Linked DNA regions of Homo sapiens: region 1 is linked to region 2. A link means that fine-mapping ties the variant in region 2 to the expression of a gene that starts in the linked region. Tissue or cell type: whole blood. Region 2 holds a variant in brackets; the other region holds the start of a gene. All regions are shown on one strand. Distances are between the middles of the regions.

Evidence for each region. PIP is the estimated chance that this variant, and not a neighbour inherited with it, causes the effect.
Region 1: it holds the start of CD300LF, and the variant in region 2 is fine-mapped to the expression of CD300LF in whole blood (TOPMed, PIP above 0.99).

Annotation. Positions count from the first base shown.
Region 1 is chr17:74,709,397-74,717,533 of GRCh38, reverse strand. It overlaps CD300LF (CD300 molecule like family member f), which reads left to right and starts at 4,611. Exons shown (of 7, transcript NM_139018.5): 1 at 4,611-4,710. The coding sequence starts at 4,668. It also overlaps a transcript of RAB37 not described here.
Region 2 is chr17:74,678,430-74,686,576 of GRCh38, reverse strand. It overlaps a transcript of RAB37 not described here. Among named protein-coding and RNA genes, the nearest start is that of RAB37-AS1, 4.9 kb to the right of the region's middle. The variant C/T (reference allele first, on the strand shown) is at 3,854.

The DNA of each region.
Region 1 (8,137 bases), 31 kb before region 2:
CCCAGCCCTCTGGGGCCTTTCTTATAAGGGCACTAATCCCATTCAGGAGACCTAGTTACTCTCCTGACCTAGTTACTCTCCAAAGGCTCAACCTCGTAATGCCATCACATTGAAGGTTAAGTTTCAACGTATGAAATTCGAGAGACACAAACTTTCAGACTCACTCTTTGGAGACGCCTATTTTTCTCAGAAATAAGCTTTGCCTGTGCCTGAATTCCTGGACAAGAACTTGGGTAAGGCCCAGATTCCCATTCCATACACTGCAGAAGAGGGGCATGAGATCTGGAAAATGTTCAAGGCTGGTGGTATCAGTTACCTGCTTAATAAGTCAGTTTTCAGTGCATGATAAAACATTCTTTCATTCTGAAATTTGTTTTATTTCATTTTATTTTATTTTTGAGACAGAGTTTCGCTCTCGTTGCCCAGGCTGGAATGCAATGGTGCGATCTCAGCTCACTGCAACCTCTGCCTCCCAGGTTCAAGTGATTCTCCTGCCTCAGCCTCCTGAGCAGCTGGGACTACAGGTACCTATCACCATGCCAAGCTAATTTTTTGTATTTTTAGTAGAGACAGGGTTTCACCATGTTGGTCAGGCTGGTCTTGAACTCCTGACCTCAGGTGATCCGCCTACCTTGCCCTCCCAAAGGGCTGGGATTACAGGCGTGAGCCACTGCACCCGGCCAGGAAATTTGTTTAAAAAACAACCTTGGAGTGGACGCCCTGGTGACAACCAGCTCCGGGATTCTCTGCTTTATCAATTCTTCATTGTCAGCACTGAGCAGGATCTAAGGGCTGTTTTCTCTCTCTCTCTCTCTCTCTCTTTCTCTGCCCCCTCCCTGACCCTGACACAAGGCAGCATGGCTTATATGAACCAGGCCTGGGTTTGAATCTTGGCTCTGCCACTTACTAGCTATGTGACCTTGGACACGTCACTTGCTCTCTGCGTCTCAATTTCTTTGAAAAATGAGAAACGCATCACCTTTCCTCTAGATTTATAGTGAGGATTCAATGTAATAATGATGGAAAATATGAAACATAGCACAAGTGGTTGGGAAAGATAAAGTGCAATTGGAAGTGAGGGGAACTAAAAGGGCTCAGGAATGGTTTCTGAGAAGAATTATGATTTATAAAAACAGAGACTGGTTCTTAGGTGCTAGACAGAGTCCCCTAGCAGAGCACACAAGGCCAGGGCAGAATGACAGGTTCAACCATTCACGTACATACATGCACACACACACATACATACATACATAGGTGCGTTAGAGCAGGGAGAATCTCAGATGACCTGTCTAATCCCTGCTTTCACATATGGGGACAGGGAAGCCCAGGGATATAACTGGCTTGTGTATAGGTCAATGGTCAAACCAGGATTACAGGTTCAAATGAGTTTTTGAGGACGCAAGGCCTGCAGAAGAGCCGATTCCCCTGTATTCCCCATAGGCACTTGGTTAGAGGAGCAGCTACTCAGAACCACTTGGCGAATTCTCTGCTTTTTCTTTTTGAGACAGTGTGTTGCTCAGTTACCCAGGCTGGAGGAGTGCAGTGTTGTGACCTCGGCTTACTGCAACCTCTGCCTCCCGGGTTCAAGCAATTCTCTTGCCTCAGCCTCCTTAGTAGCTAGAATTACAGACATCCACCACCATGCCCGGCTAATTTTTTGTATTTTTTAGTAGAGATGGGGTTTCGACATGTTGGCCAGGCTGGTCCTGAACTCCTGACCTCAGGTGATCCGCCTGCCTCAGCCTCCCAAAGAGTTGAGATCACAGGTGTAAGCCACCGTGCCCGGCCTGAATTCTCTGTTCTTGTTTCAAAGGGGAATCCTTCTTGGGGAGGCCAGGTCTGGGAGAGGCCACGATCAGAGGGTCTGGCCACAGGCAGTTCTAACAGACAGTGCTGTTCCCTCCTTGTTGCTCATGCCCAGGAGAAGAAAGCTTACCCCACCACCCTCGATGCATCTGCCCCTTGTTTTTCAGGGCAGCCCCCATTCCTGGTCCTTTTTCCTGGAAGCCAATGGCTTCCCTACTGCAGAGGGCTGATTGCTCTCTGAGTATCTGCATGGTGCCCTGGGCAGAGGACCTATTGACATGCAGCAGGGACCAAAGGGCTGGCCAAGCCCTCACCCCGGATTCTTGACCTACTTTATGGTCTGCAGATATGTAAAGCGAGAAGCCATCTCTGGCCACGTCCTGGAAAAGCCATGGCTTATCAGCTGCTGTGGTTTTCTGTGCAAATAACCCTCTGCACACCCACTCATTCCTGATTAGGGTGTGAGGGGGTTGCGTCCCTCTTTGAGACTCACTCCCTTGTCAAGATGTCACAGGGTGTATGTGACACATGGCAAAAGTGGCTCCAGGTGCAGAAGGTGAGAAAGGTCTAATCCTTTTATTTATTTTTATTTATTTATTTATTTTGAGATGGAGTTTCACTCTTGTTGCCCAGGCTGTAGTGCAATGGTGCGATCTCAGCTCACTGCAATCTCCACCTCCTGTGTTCAAGTTATTCTCCTGCTTCAGCCTCCTGAGTAGCTGGGATTATAAGCACCCACCACCACACCCGGCTAAGTTTTGTATTTTTAGTAGAGACGGGGTTTTGCCATGTTGGCCAGGCTGATCTCGAACTCCTGACCTCAGGTGATCCACCTGCCTTGGCCTCCCAAAATGCTGGGATTACAAGTGTGAGCCACTGAGTCTGGCCCTTCCTAATCCTTTTATATCCCCAGTCCCGACCCTAGGGACTTGCTGGGGTCTTGATGGGAAAGGAGAGATGGGGGATGGACATGATTGTCAGAAGGAGGAGAGTGAGGGGCAAAACTGGTCCTTCCTTTCTTCCTTCCTTCCTTCAACAAATAGTTATAAGGTGAGGGGTGGAGCGAGGGGATAATAGTCCTGAGCAATGAACTGGTTTCCTCAGGTAGACCCCCTGGTACAATGGACAGGTTTCTGGAAGATTCCAGATGTAGGTATCCCTGGGATCTCACCTGGTGGGCTGGGGTACAGCAGTAGGAGCTTCCTTCGTGTTCTCAGGACAAAGCGCCTCTTGTCAGTGGGCCAGTAGTTCCCTGCTTGCATCTCCCTTCTCTCTGAACCTCTCTGTGCGTGCGTGTGTGTGTGTGTGTGTGTGTGTGTGTGTGTGTGTGTTTAAAGAGACAGCGTCTGCTCTGTTGCCCAGGCTGGAGTACAGTGAACAGTGGCTCAATCATAGCTCACTGCAGTTTCGACCTCTTGGGCTCAGGTAATCCTCAGGCCTTAGCTTCCCAGATTGCTTGGACTACAGGCATGCATGACTCTGCAGAACTAATTATTATTATTATTGTTATTATTTTTGAGACAGAGTCTTGCTCTGTTGCCTAGGTTGGAGTTCAGTGGTGCGATCTGGGTTCACTGCAACCTCTGCCGCCTGGGTTCAAGTGATTCTCCTACCTCGGCCTCCCGAGTCACTGGGATTACAGGTGAATGCTACCACGCCCAGCTAATTTTTGTATTTTTTAGTAGAGATGGGGTTTCACCATTTTGGCCAGGCCGGTCTCTAACTCCTGACCTGGAGTGATCTGCCTACCTTGGCCTCCCAAAGTGTTGGGATTACAGGCATGAGCCACCATGCCTGACTTTTTTTTTTTTTTTTTTTTTTTTTTTTTGTGGAGATGAAGCCTTGCCATGTTGCCCAGGCTGGTCTTGAACTCCTGGCCTCAAGTGATCTTCCTGCCTCAGCCTCCTAAAGTGCTGAGATTACAGGTGTGAGCCACCGTACCTGGCCTTGTAGTCTGGGGTTGGATACCCAATCTCCTCATAGCTGCCTTCCAACCTTTGGTCTGGAATCTCTCCTCTGGCTTTCTGACTTTGGCCACAAGTGCCCCTCAATCCTCTTGAACTTCTGGCCTTCTGGGCTCCCAAGCATCTGGCTACACCTGAAGCTCCAGGTTTAGGACATCGTGTCTATCAGCCGTGGCTCTCCAGGACCCCTCTGGTGGAGCCGCGTGCCCCTGCCCCCAGCCAACCCACCAGGTTTGGAGGATTGGATAAGGGCTGGCCAGACCCAGTGGATCTGTCTGCAGGTTTCCACATGACAGAGGAGCCACGAAGTTCTCTTTTTAGAGAACCCACGGTGGCTGTGTACAGAGAGGTACTTCTCAGAAGCTGATGATTCCTGTGACCCCTTGCATTGTCAACTGCCTCGAAATTTCACCCTTTCCACCTCCTTCCTCTTTTTTTTTTTTTTTTTGTTTTTGTTTGAGACAGAGTCTTGTTCTGTCACCCAGGCTGGAGTGCAAGTGGCACGATCTCGGCTCACTACAACCTCCGCCTACTAGGTTCAAGCGATTCTTCTGTCTCAGCCTCCTGAGTAGCTGGGACTACAGGTGTGCGCCACCACGCCTGGCTAATTTTTGTATTTCTAGTAGAGACGGGGTTTCACTATGTTGGCCAGGCTGATCTTGAACTCCTGATCTCGTGATCCGCCCGCCTTGGCCTCCCAAAGTGCCAGGATTACAGGCCTGAGCCACGGTGCCCAACCAACCACCTCCTTCCTCTTTTAGTCTCTTTCACCCATGGGAAGTGACTGAAGGAGGAAGTTCAAGGGCGAGAGTGAGTACCAGCAGAAGGCTGGGAGTCTGTAGTTTGTTCCTGCTGCCAGGCTCCACTGAGGGGAACGGGGACCTGTCTGAAGAGAAGATGCCCCTGCTGACACTCTACCTGCTCCTCTTCTGGCTCTCAGGTGAGCGGGCCTGGGTCTGTCTTCTTGGGGAAGCTTAGCAAGCAGGAGGAGGTGGCTGAGAGAGGGAAGAAGGGACCCGGCCAGAAGGTGTCCTTAATGGCATGAGCCTTGTGCGTTTCATCCACATACCCACCATTCACCTAGCATTTCCGTTGCCAAGGCAGGAATACAGGGCATGACCTTCATAATGAAGCCAGTGCAAGGCAGAATTCCTGACCCCCAGGGGCTGATCATGTGAAATGGACAGACTGTAGGCCCCGCCGGCCAGGGAAAAGCAGAGGAGGAACATGGGCTGCTCAGGAGAGCAGGCGACTGCCTGATCCTGGACTGGGTGATCTGTCACCTGCGTGGAGGTGTTCTGAGCAAGGGCAGGCGTCAGGGAAGAGGTGAGGCTGGAGGACTTTGAAAGGAGGGAAGAGGGAGTTTGCTGGGCAGAGAGGGAGTGGTGGTTCTAGGCATTTGGGGCAGAAGGAAATAGTAGAAGTTGCTGAGGGACGGAAAGGTCAAGAGGAGATAAGACTGGCAGGGACGTAGAGGAAAGGAGGGACTGAGATGTGGGCAGAGCCAGAGGGCAGGAGACACCTTAAGTTGGTGCATACAATTTTTATTAAAAATGAAGGGAGGCCAGGGAAAGAGGCTCATTCCTGTAATCCCAGCACTTTGGGAGGCTGATTGCTTGAGCTCAGGGATTCGAGACCAGCTTGGGTAACATGTGGAAACCCTGTCTCTACAAAAAGTACAAAAATTAGCCAGGTATGGTGGCATGTGCCTATGGTCCCAGCTACTTGGGAGGCTGGAGGCTGAGGCATGAGGATCACTTGAGCCCAGGAGTTGGAGGCTGCAGTGACCTGTAATCACACTACTGCCTTCCAGCATGGGTGACAGAGCGAGACTCTGTTTCAAAAAAAAAAAAAAAAGAAAAAAGAAAAAAGAAAAAAAAAGAAAGAAAACAAAAAAATAATTTCAAGAAGTGAGAAGTGATAAGTACTGTGAGGAAAACAGAACAAGATGATATGTTACAGTGGGACCCAGGTAGGGGGATGCTGTAAGTCAGGTGGGCTGAAACAACCCCCCTGAAGAGGGTCCCAGATGCCTGTCCGAGCCGAGACCTAGGAAAAGGATCAGACACAGGATCGGGACCAGCTTTCCAGGCACAGGGAACAGTAGATACGAGGGCTCTTGTGTAGGAATGAGCTTGGACTGGGCACGTCTGAGGAAGAGGGAGGTCAGCACGGCTTTGCCTCATGCTTCAGAAGATCCTGGTGGGACAGATTGGAGAAAAGGTCTTGGGGAAGAAAGTGACTTGTCCAGGACTGCTAGGCTGGTACAGGAAGAGCAGGGAGTGGCTCATGGACACTTGGCCCCGAGTTTCAGCATGTAAGTGGAGAAGGCAGACTTTGGGTGAGATGTTATGAAATGCATTGGCACAGTGAGACCAGGACAGGTATGGCTGCTTTTTTTCTGACACCTGGAAATGAGAGAATTTGGTAGTGAGCAGATGTGAGAGTCGTGTTGGGAGTGGGAGTGGTTTGGGACCTCTGTCTGAAGTGGGCAGAAAAGCCAGCAGGCACAGCTATGGGCGCCAACATGGAGCCCGGATACCACTGTGAACCTGCATGCATCAGCTCTTGCCAGCCTCTCCTGCAGAACTTCCACCCACAAGCAGCAAGTGTGCTTACCCTGTTTCCCTCTTCTAAATAATTTATCGTTTTAAAACACCCAAGAAAAAAAATACCCATCCGGAAGTTTGTTTTCTGTGAGAAAGGAAGGTTTTTTATTTTTTTTGAGTTGGGGTCTCAGTCTGTTGCCTAGGCTGGAGTGTGGTGGCATGATCATAGCTCACTGCAGCCTCAACTCCTGGGCTCAAGTGATCCTCCTGCCTTGGCCGTCTGAGTTGCTGGGATTAAAAGCATGAGCCACCGTGCCTGGCAAGAACAGATTTTTTGTTTTTTTTTTTGAGACAGAGTCTCGCTCTGTCACTCAGGCTGGAGTGCAGTGGCGCGATCTTGGCTCACTGCAACCTCTGCCTCCCAGATTCAAGTGATTCTTCTGCCTCAGCCTCCCAAGTAGCTGGGATTACAGGTGTGCCAGCATGCCTGGCTATTTTTTTTTTTTTTTCGTATTTTTAGTAGAGATGGGGTTTTACCATGTTGGTTAGGCTGGTCTCGAACTCCTGACCTCAAGTGATCCACCCGCCTTGGCCTCCCAAAGTGTTGGGATTACAGGCGTGAGCCACCGCGCCCAGCCTCACTGTGCTTTTTTTCCATAAGTCTTTATTGTTTCTGTTAAAGTTATTCCTAGGAATTTAATACACTTTTATTGCTAATGTAAATGAGCACTTTTCTACTTTACTTTCCAACTATTTATTAGCAGTTTATAGGAAAGCCATTGATTTTTACATGTTTATTATTTAGCCACTCTATTAAATTCAATTATGAATTAAAATACTTTTTCATTTAAAATTAAAAAATTTTCTCTAACTTTTTTCCCTTTTGATAATTATACATTTTATGTTTTTCCTTATCTTCCTATATTGATTAGAATTTCCAGGCTGGGCACAGTGGCTCACGCCTGTAATCCCAGCACTTTGGGAGGCCAAGGCAGGCGGATCACAAGGTCAGGAGATCGAGACCATCCTGGCTACGGTGAAACCCCATCTCTACCAAAAGTACAAAAAATTAGCTGGGCGTGGTGGTGGGCGCCTGTAGTCCCAGCTACTCAGGAGGCTGAGGCAGGAGAATGGCGTGAACCCGGGAGGCGGAACTTGCAGTGAGCCGAGATTGAGCCACTGCACTCCAGCCTGGGCGACAGAGCCTGACTCCATCTCAAAAAAACAAACAAACAAAAAAGAACTTCCAGAATCATGTTATTATATATATTGGGAATTCATGTTTTGTTTATGATGTCAATAGGAATGCCTATAGTATTTCACTGTTAAGAATAATTTGGCTGGTGATGCATGATGGCTCAAGCCTGTAATCCCAGCACTTTGTGAGGCTAAGGCAGGCAGATCGGTTGAGTCCAGGAGTTTGAGACCAGCTTGGGCAACAAAGTGAGACCTTGTCTCTCCAAAAAAAAAAATACTAGCCTGGTATGGTGGTGCATGCCTGTGGTCCTGTCGTCCCAGCTACATAAGAGGTTACAGCAAAAGGATCACTTGAGCCCAGGACTTGAGGCTGCAGTGACCCATGTTCGTACCAGTGCACTCCGGCCTGGGTGACAGGCGACCAAGCAAGACTCCATCTCAAAAAAAAAAGAATAATTTGGCTCTTGGTTTATGGTGTCCTAAAAGTCTTTTTAATTGTGGAAAATAAAATGTACAAAAAAGTGCATAAAACTTCAACATCCATGTTAACAAATTATTATAAAGTACATATGAATGTCTCGCACTAAGTGTGGTGCTTGCTGAGGTTTTTGATAGACAATC
Region 2 (8,147 bases):
ACTAAAAAAAATACAAAAACTAGCTAGGTGTAGTGGTGTACGCCTGTAATCCCAGCTACTCGGGAGGCTGAGGCAGGAGAATCACTCGAACCCAGGAGGTAGAGGTTGCAGTGAGCTGAGATGGTGCCACTGTACTCCAGCCTGGGCAACAGAGCGAGACTCCATCTCAAAAATAATAATAATAGGCCGGGCTTGGTGGCTCACGTCTGTAATCCCAGCACTTTTGGAGGCTGAGGCGTGTGGGTTGCCTGAGCTCAGGAGTTTGACACCAGCCTGGCCAACATGGTGAAACCCCGTCTGTACTAAAAATACAAAAAATTAGCCAGGCATGGTGGCGTGTGCCTGTAACCCCAGCTACCTGGGATGCTGAGGTAGGAGAATTGCTTGAACCTGGAAGCAGAGGTTACGGTAAGCCGAAATGGCACTACTGCACTCCAGCCTGGGTGACAGAGTGAGACTCTATCTCAAGAAAAAAAAAATATAACAAGATATGAGGGCAAATGGGAGAGAACGTGGAGATAGAGTGAAGGAGAGTCTGCCCAGGGGCAGTGCTGGTGCTTGCAAAGCTTGGCTTGCTTTCCTGGGCTTCTTACCCTGCACTTGGGTTGATGGAGGCAAATCCCCAGGGGATGCTGTTGTTTGCTCCTCCACTCCTGAGACCCAATTAACGGTGACTAACTGCATTTGGGCCTGCTTCATCTGAGCAGCTCTGCACGCAGGGTCTTGAATCCACTTTGTGAATGAATATCTCCCACTGGCATTGATTTTGCTTTGGTGTTTATCCTGGGCCAGGCTGAGATTGTCACCTGGGCTTCACTAGCATTTCTGGAGGTCAGTGATAAAGGGGTTTGGGGGAGCTTCCAGTCCAAGCCTTCCCTTTCCTAAGGACCTTGGGAATCTAGGGAGGGATAAGGAGAAGAGTTAGGGTCTGGAGTTGAAGCTTGGATTGGGGTTTCTCTTTTATTCCCTGCTGAGTGCCCTTGAACAACCACTGAATGTCTCTCAGATCTCTTTTCTCTTCTACGAAATGGAGTGTAACTAAAAGTGCCGCAGACCCATCAGGCTGTGATTTCAAAGTAACCAAACTAGGGCTTGGAGCAGTGGTTCACGCCTGTAATCTCAGAACTTTGGGAGGCCAAGGCAGGCAGATCACTTGAGGTCATGAGATCGAGACCAGCCTGGTCAACATGGTGAAACCCTGTCTCTACTAAAAACACACAAAAAATTAGCTGGGTGTGATGGTGCACACTTGTAATCCCAGCTACTTGGGAGGCTGAGGTGGGAGAATCGCTTGAACCCAGAAGGCAGAGGTTGCAGTGAGCCGAGATCGCGCCACTGCACTCTAGCCTGGGTGACAGAGCAAGACTCCATATCAAAACAAAAACAAAGTAACCCAATTAACCTTCTATCCCATGGCTATCTTGCAAAGTGGATCCCAGCTACCTATAGGAGCCTTCTTTTTTTTTTTTTTTAAGGCAAAATGTTAGCATTTAGTAAATATAGATGGTAGGTACATGTGTCATTTTCTTTTTGTTCTTCTAGTTTTTGTACCTTTCTATGAGTTTCAAAATTTCAGAATAAACCATGAATTTTCACTTATCTATACAATGGAATTCTATGTAGTGATTAAAAAGAATGAAGGTAAAAATGTGTATAACAAAATTCCTATGATGGATCTATCTATCTATCTATCTATCTATCTATCTATCTATCTATCTATCTCACACATATGTATAAATAAACACATGCATGTATTTTTACATGGCAATTTCATCTTCTTTTTTTCTAAGGCAGAACCTTGCTCTGTCACCCAGGCTCGAGTGCAGTGGCACAATCTTGGCTCACTGCAACCTCTGCCTCCCAGGTTCAAGTGATTCTCCTGCCTCAGCCTCCTGAGTAGTTGGGGTTACAGGGACCCGCCACCATGCGCGACTAACTTTTTTGTATTTTTAGTAGAGACAGGGTTTCGTCATGTTGGTCAGGCTGTTCTCAAACTCCTGACCTCAAGTGATCCAGCTACCTCGGCCTCCGAAAGTGCTGGGATTATAGGCGTAAGCCACCGTGCGCAGTCCATTTTTATTTTTAAGATATGTATTTTGAAACACTGGCATCACAGGAAATTTTTTCTTTGTTTTTCATTTTTCAAATTTTGCAATTAAATATATTAATAATAATGGCTCTCTTGGCTGGGTGTGGTGGCTCACGCCTATAATCCCAGCACTTTGGGAGACTGAGGCAGGTGGATCACTTGAGGTCTGGAGTTCATGACCAGCCTGGCCAATACCATCTTTACTAAAAAAAAAAAAAAAAATTAACAGGGCTTCATGGCACACATCTGTAATCCTAGCTGCTCAGGAGGCTGAAGTAGGAGGATCACTTGAACCTGGGAGGCAGAGGTTGCAGTGAGGAGGCAGAGGAGGCAGAGTGCATGCCACTGCAGTCCAGGGTGACAGAGAGAGACTCGTCTCAATAAATAAATAAATAAATAAAATAATGACTCTCATTATTCACTAATAGCCACCAATATGAACTTATTGTTTTTTCAGCACAATGCTCAGATCACAAACATGATCCCTGTCTACTTCTTCCCCTGCCTCTGTCACAGCCACTTACCCCTGAGGACTTGCCCACCCACCCACCTTCGGACTGTCTGATCTGCCTTCCAGGCCACACTTCCTGCTGCCCGTGACCCTCGCAGATGCTGTCCTGGGGACGCAACCACCCCTCGACAGTGAATGCCACTGTGGTGCTGCCCACTCCTTTGCCATCTGGCCCAAAGCATAAGATGACTCTTCCCTGGTTACTCGAGGCACATCCAAAACCAGGCGTGGTGTGAGGCCATCAGAAGGCAGAGGTGCCCCAGGGAATAGCTCAAAACTACCCCACAGAGCCAGGCTCAGACCTTGCAGGGGTTTTTATCTGGCAGCAAGAATGGCTATATAAAATAAAAATACAGGGGTCCTTGTACAAACATTATTAAGACTTTAAAGATGGCGAATGCAAAGTGTTAAACCAAATGCAGGGCCCTTCTAAGTGCAGGGCGTTATGTGACTTTGTAGGTGGCATACTCATAAAGTTGGCCTTGTTTGGTGCTTTTCTGCCTCACTTCTCATCTGTGTTCATGTAGCCCTGGGCTGACACGCCCTACACAGCAATGGAAAAATTCAGGCGTCTCCATAGCAGCTAACCATGGTCCTTAAGAGAGGCGGAAGAGCTTCCCCTCATTCCTGTCTGAGCTCCGTCAGCTTCCTGAATCCTCATTCCCTGCTCCAATCAACCTCTTCCCTGGATGGTCCACAGTTGGATCATCTATTTCCTTCAGAGAAAATTCTACTCCCACCCATAGAGGGAGGTCTGGCTCTGCAGCCCCAATAAGCCTATCGCTTCATAGGGTGACAGCAGTTTGTTTCCCAAGTCCAGTCATTAATAACCCAAATCCAGTTATTTAGTCTTAAATGACACTATGTGTGAGGCACCAAGAGGCCAGTTCAGGTGGGACTGTGACAAGTTCTCTTCATTTCTTTTCAGGCACTTCTCATTAAAGATTTGAAAATGCTGGGACTCAGCCTTGCCCTGGATTACCATGGGACATCTGTTGTTTTTGCATGGCTAGCCTCCAGATGACACCATCCCATTTTCCCTGGAAACCATTGTCTTCCACTCTTTTTTTTTGAGACGGAGTTTCGCTCTTATTGCCCAGGCTGGAGTGCAATGGTGCAATCTCGGCTCACCGCAACCTCCGCCTCCCGGGTTCAAGTGATTCTCCTGCCTCAGCTTCCTGAGTAGCTGGGATTGCAGGCATGCACCACCACAACCGGCTAATTTTGTATTTTTAGCAGAGAAGGGGTTTCCC[C/T]ATGTTGGTCAGGCTGTTCTTGAACTCCCGACCTCGGGTGATCCACCCGCCTTGACCTCCCAAAGTGCTGGGATTACAAGCATGATCCACCACGCCCGGCCCATTTTCTTCCACTCTTGATCTACAGGGCTTGGGTGGGATTGACTCCACCTTCGGGGTGGACATGTGACCCGAGCTTAAGCCGTCCATCATGTTCTACCCTCTGGCTATAGTATTGGTTCAGGGGTGGGCATGTGGCAATTTCAGTCTCCAGTGAGTATTGGGTCTAGGACTTTGTTTGGAATTGGGAGCTGTGAGGATGTGATCCTGGGGCTGCTGTCAATAATGGGGCCCCACGGGGAGAAGCCTGCCTGTGAATGGAGCCAAGCCAGAGAGAAAAATGAGAGAGAGAGAGAGACAGAGAGTGAGGCCGAAGTCACTGAGAGTCCCTGGGACCAGCTGAGCTCGATGTCAGCTGCACTCCCTAGGCTTCTCTGGTACAGGAACCAATGAGTTCTCTTTTCGGCTTAAGCCAATTTGAGTTGGGTTTTGTCACTGGAAATCGAGAGTCCTGATCACAAGATTTCCCCTTTTGCAGTCAAGAATAATGCCTGTTCTCTTTACACACAGTGCTGGGGAATTCAACCGAAATGATTTATATGCAAGTTTTCTGCAAGTTGGAAAGTGCTGTTGGAATGGAATGACCTAGAATGTACAGCTGGCTAACAGCAGAGACAGGGATAAAGCTTGGTTCTTTGGTACTCAAAGCCCAGTTCTCTTTCTCTGCTAATGAGCTGCCTCCTACTCTAAGAAAATCAGTGAGCAGGGCAGAAGGTGGTCAGGACAGGTGGTGGACAGGGCAGGTAGTGAACAGGATGAGGGTGAAGAGGGAAGGCAGTAGACAAGACAGGTGGTGGACAGAACAAGTGATGGATGGGGCAGGTGGTGGATGGAACCAGTGGTGAACAGGACAGGTGGTAGACAGCACAGGTGGTGGTCAGGACAGGTGATGGTCAGGGCCTATGCTATGCTGGTTCTCATGTGCCTGCTGTCTGGAGGAGACCTGGTTTCAGGGAAAGGAGAGTGAGGGTCCTGGAGGACATGCCTGCAGAGCTCACGTGGCGTGCCCCTCTGTTTTCCCAAGCCTCTCTTTGTGTGCCACACTGTCATCCCAAGGGCTGGGATCCTGGTGTTTTGGGTTTGGTTGAGTGTTTTTCAGCCCATGTCTTTGGAGATGGTCATGGAAGGGATCCAGCTTAGTTTCTATGTGTTGGACTCTGCCACAATTGGACAGGGGTCTTTGCACTGGGCACTTCTCAGAAGTGCAACAGGAGTCTCTTCCTTTCTTGGACATGGGCTTGAAGGGATCCCTGTGTTGAGGGGCTCAGAGCCCTCTGACCTTCAGAGGTGGGGCCCCATCCTGGGACTTTGGGCTTTATAACCCCTCAGATCCGTCAATCAGCCAGGAGCCAGAAGTTGGCAGCCTCGAGAGCTGCAAGCTTTTGACCTGGTCCCCAAGGGCTCAGCTTCCCACTATATGGGACTAGAGGTCTTTGACCTTCATGGGCACCAAGGTCCACGTGGCACACTGAGCTGCAGTCAGATGTGGCCTGAGCCATCTCTGCCTGTGCCATCCCTCTGATCCACCCAGCCTGCTGGACGCAGCTCCTTGGGGAATGAAGAGTGGGTTTTGTTCCTGGGGACTGGCATGTGGTGCGCAGTAAATATTTGCTGAATTGATTCTCAGGATTCTCAGGCAGAAATATCAGATTTCAAGGGGAGCATGTGAACAGGGGTGGTGGTGGGGTATAAGGAAATGTCCCCAATCACCTTTCTACTCTTCCATGGTTCTTGCCCCTGAAATCCAAGTCCCTAAGGCTCTGACACAGGCCTTGAGTGAGATGGAGGAAGAAGTATGAAATGACAACTCTGGCGATGATGAACGGAACATCCCTTCCCTTTCCCTCCCCATAACCAGGTCAAGTCCAGGGAATTCTCAAGCTCAAAGGCAAGGAGTTCTTAAAGGATTGCAGGAAATACAGACCTGGAGAGAATAGAATGACTGTCCGGCCCAAGGCAGTTAAATATATACAGCTGAGGGAGGCAGAGGTGGGGCAAGGGGTAGGGGAGAGGACCTAAGGGTAGAAGGGGCCAGTGGGGTCGTAGATTGAGGCTGTGCCTATAGTGTAGCCAGCTACCAACTCATGTCAGCCTGATAGCATTAAACATTTGAATCCTCCAAGTTCCATTTTTTCCCCTGGATTTCATGCTTAGCGAACAAAAAAATCTCCTGATTATAATGTGGCTTGGCATCTAGGGCAATACATGTCTTGTGAGTCTGATTAACATCAGCCTGACTGGAGAGATGGAGCCACTCTTGAGTGAGTGAGCAAAACCAGCTCTACAGAGCTGAAGGCCACACAATGGACTGCTGTCAATGCCCTAAAGTAGTGACCATCTGTGACCCTCTTGGTGAAGCCCCTTGTCCTCTCCTGACTCTATCCCTCTGCCTGTCTACCTTGCTTGGATTTGACTATAGGCAAATTTCTTAATGTCTCCATGCCTCAGTTTACTCATCTGTAAAATGAGATTAAAATAGGTTTGTTGTAGGATTAAGTGAGTTAAGAGATGCTAAGTGCTTAGAATATTACATGGCATGCAAGTGCTATCTAAGGGTCTGCTGTAATGATTCAGGCTTCCACAATGCTGGCTATGACCTTGAGCAAGTCAGTTTTTTCTTTCTTTCTTTCTTTTTTTTTTTTTTTTTGAGACAGAGCCTTGCTGTGTCACCCAGGCTGGAGTGCAGTGTCGCAATCTCAGCTCACTGCAACCTCCGCCTCCTGGGTTCAAGCAATTCTCCTGCCTCAGCCTCCTGAGTAGCTGGGATTACAGGTGCCCGCCACCACACCCAGCTAATTTTTGTGTTTTTAGTAGAGACAGGGTTTCACCATGTTGGCCAGGCTGGTCTCAAACTACTGACCTCATGATCTGCCCATCTCAGCCTCTCAAAGTGCTGGGATTACAGGCATGAAGCACCATGCCCAGCCATCTGGCCTTTGTTTCCCTGTCCTATTAATATGGACATTAATTAGTTTAATAGTAACATCTTCTGGAAAAAGCATATGTTAAGTATAAAATGTCTTGGCATATATTAAAGTGTTTCGCAAACTGTAAAGTGCTGCAGAAATAAACCATATGCTTATTTGGATAATGTATTGGGAACAATTATTAGTCTTACTGGGTCCCTTTGGATTATAGTGCAGAGATGATTTTTAATATTTCTTACCTGATAACCAAATGAAACCTGAGGTGGGACCCAGAGAAGGAGGAAGGATCTGGGTAAAGGCATGGGGGAGGCGAGGAGGGAGACTCCAGGGGCTGAAAGGGGGTGTCTGCCTCATCTGGACTGTGTACCAGACTTTATTCCCTTCCAAAGCTTACACTGCTTCTCACTGTGAGCTTGGGGAAGGTGTTACCAGTTCCTGACTCTCCCCTAGGGGTACTGCTCTAATAAATGACAGTTCCGATTTTTAATAAACAGAGTTGCTGGGAGAGGGTATGAATGCAAAATTCAAACAGGCGAGGGAGGAAGAAGAGGAGGAGAAATGTTTACTTTGCCTTTTTTTTTTTTTTTGAGACAGAGTCTTGCTTTGTTGCCCAGGCTGGAGTGCAGTGGTGCGATCTCGGCTCACTGCAACCTCAGCCTTCCGGGTTCAAGTGATTCTCCTGCCTCAGCCTCCCAAGTAGCTGGGGTTACAGGCGCCTGCCACCACGCCCAGCTAATTTTTGTATTTTTACTAGAGACAGAGTTTCCTCATGCTGGCCAGGCTGATCTTGAACTCCTGACCTCAGGTGATCTGCCTGCCTTGGACTCCCAAAGTGCTGGGATTACAGGACTAAGCCACTGCACCCAGCCTGCTTTGCTTTTAAAAGGCTCATAACAAAAGCTAAGGGGAGACAGAGAACAAAAACGGATGATCACTGGCCCTGCCCACAGCTCATGAGAGGAAGGGTGCGTATGTGTGCATGTGCAGGCATGTGTGTGTGTGTGTGTGTGTGTGTCTGTGTGTCTGTGTGTGTGGTGGCCAGGGGCAGAAGGCTAGCAAGTAAGAGAAAATTTGAACTTAAGCACAGCTTGGTTTCAGATACCTAAAAGCATGTGCATTTGCAAAAGCACAAATGATTAAATAGCATCCTCATGTTGATGGGTAGAAACTGTCTGCTAATAAGCAAATGAGAAGGTGCTAATAAGCAAATGAAAAGGCGCTGATAAGCAAATGAGAAGGGAGGGAGCTGACTTAGAAATCAAGGTCAG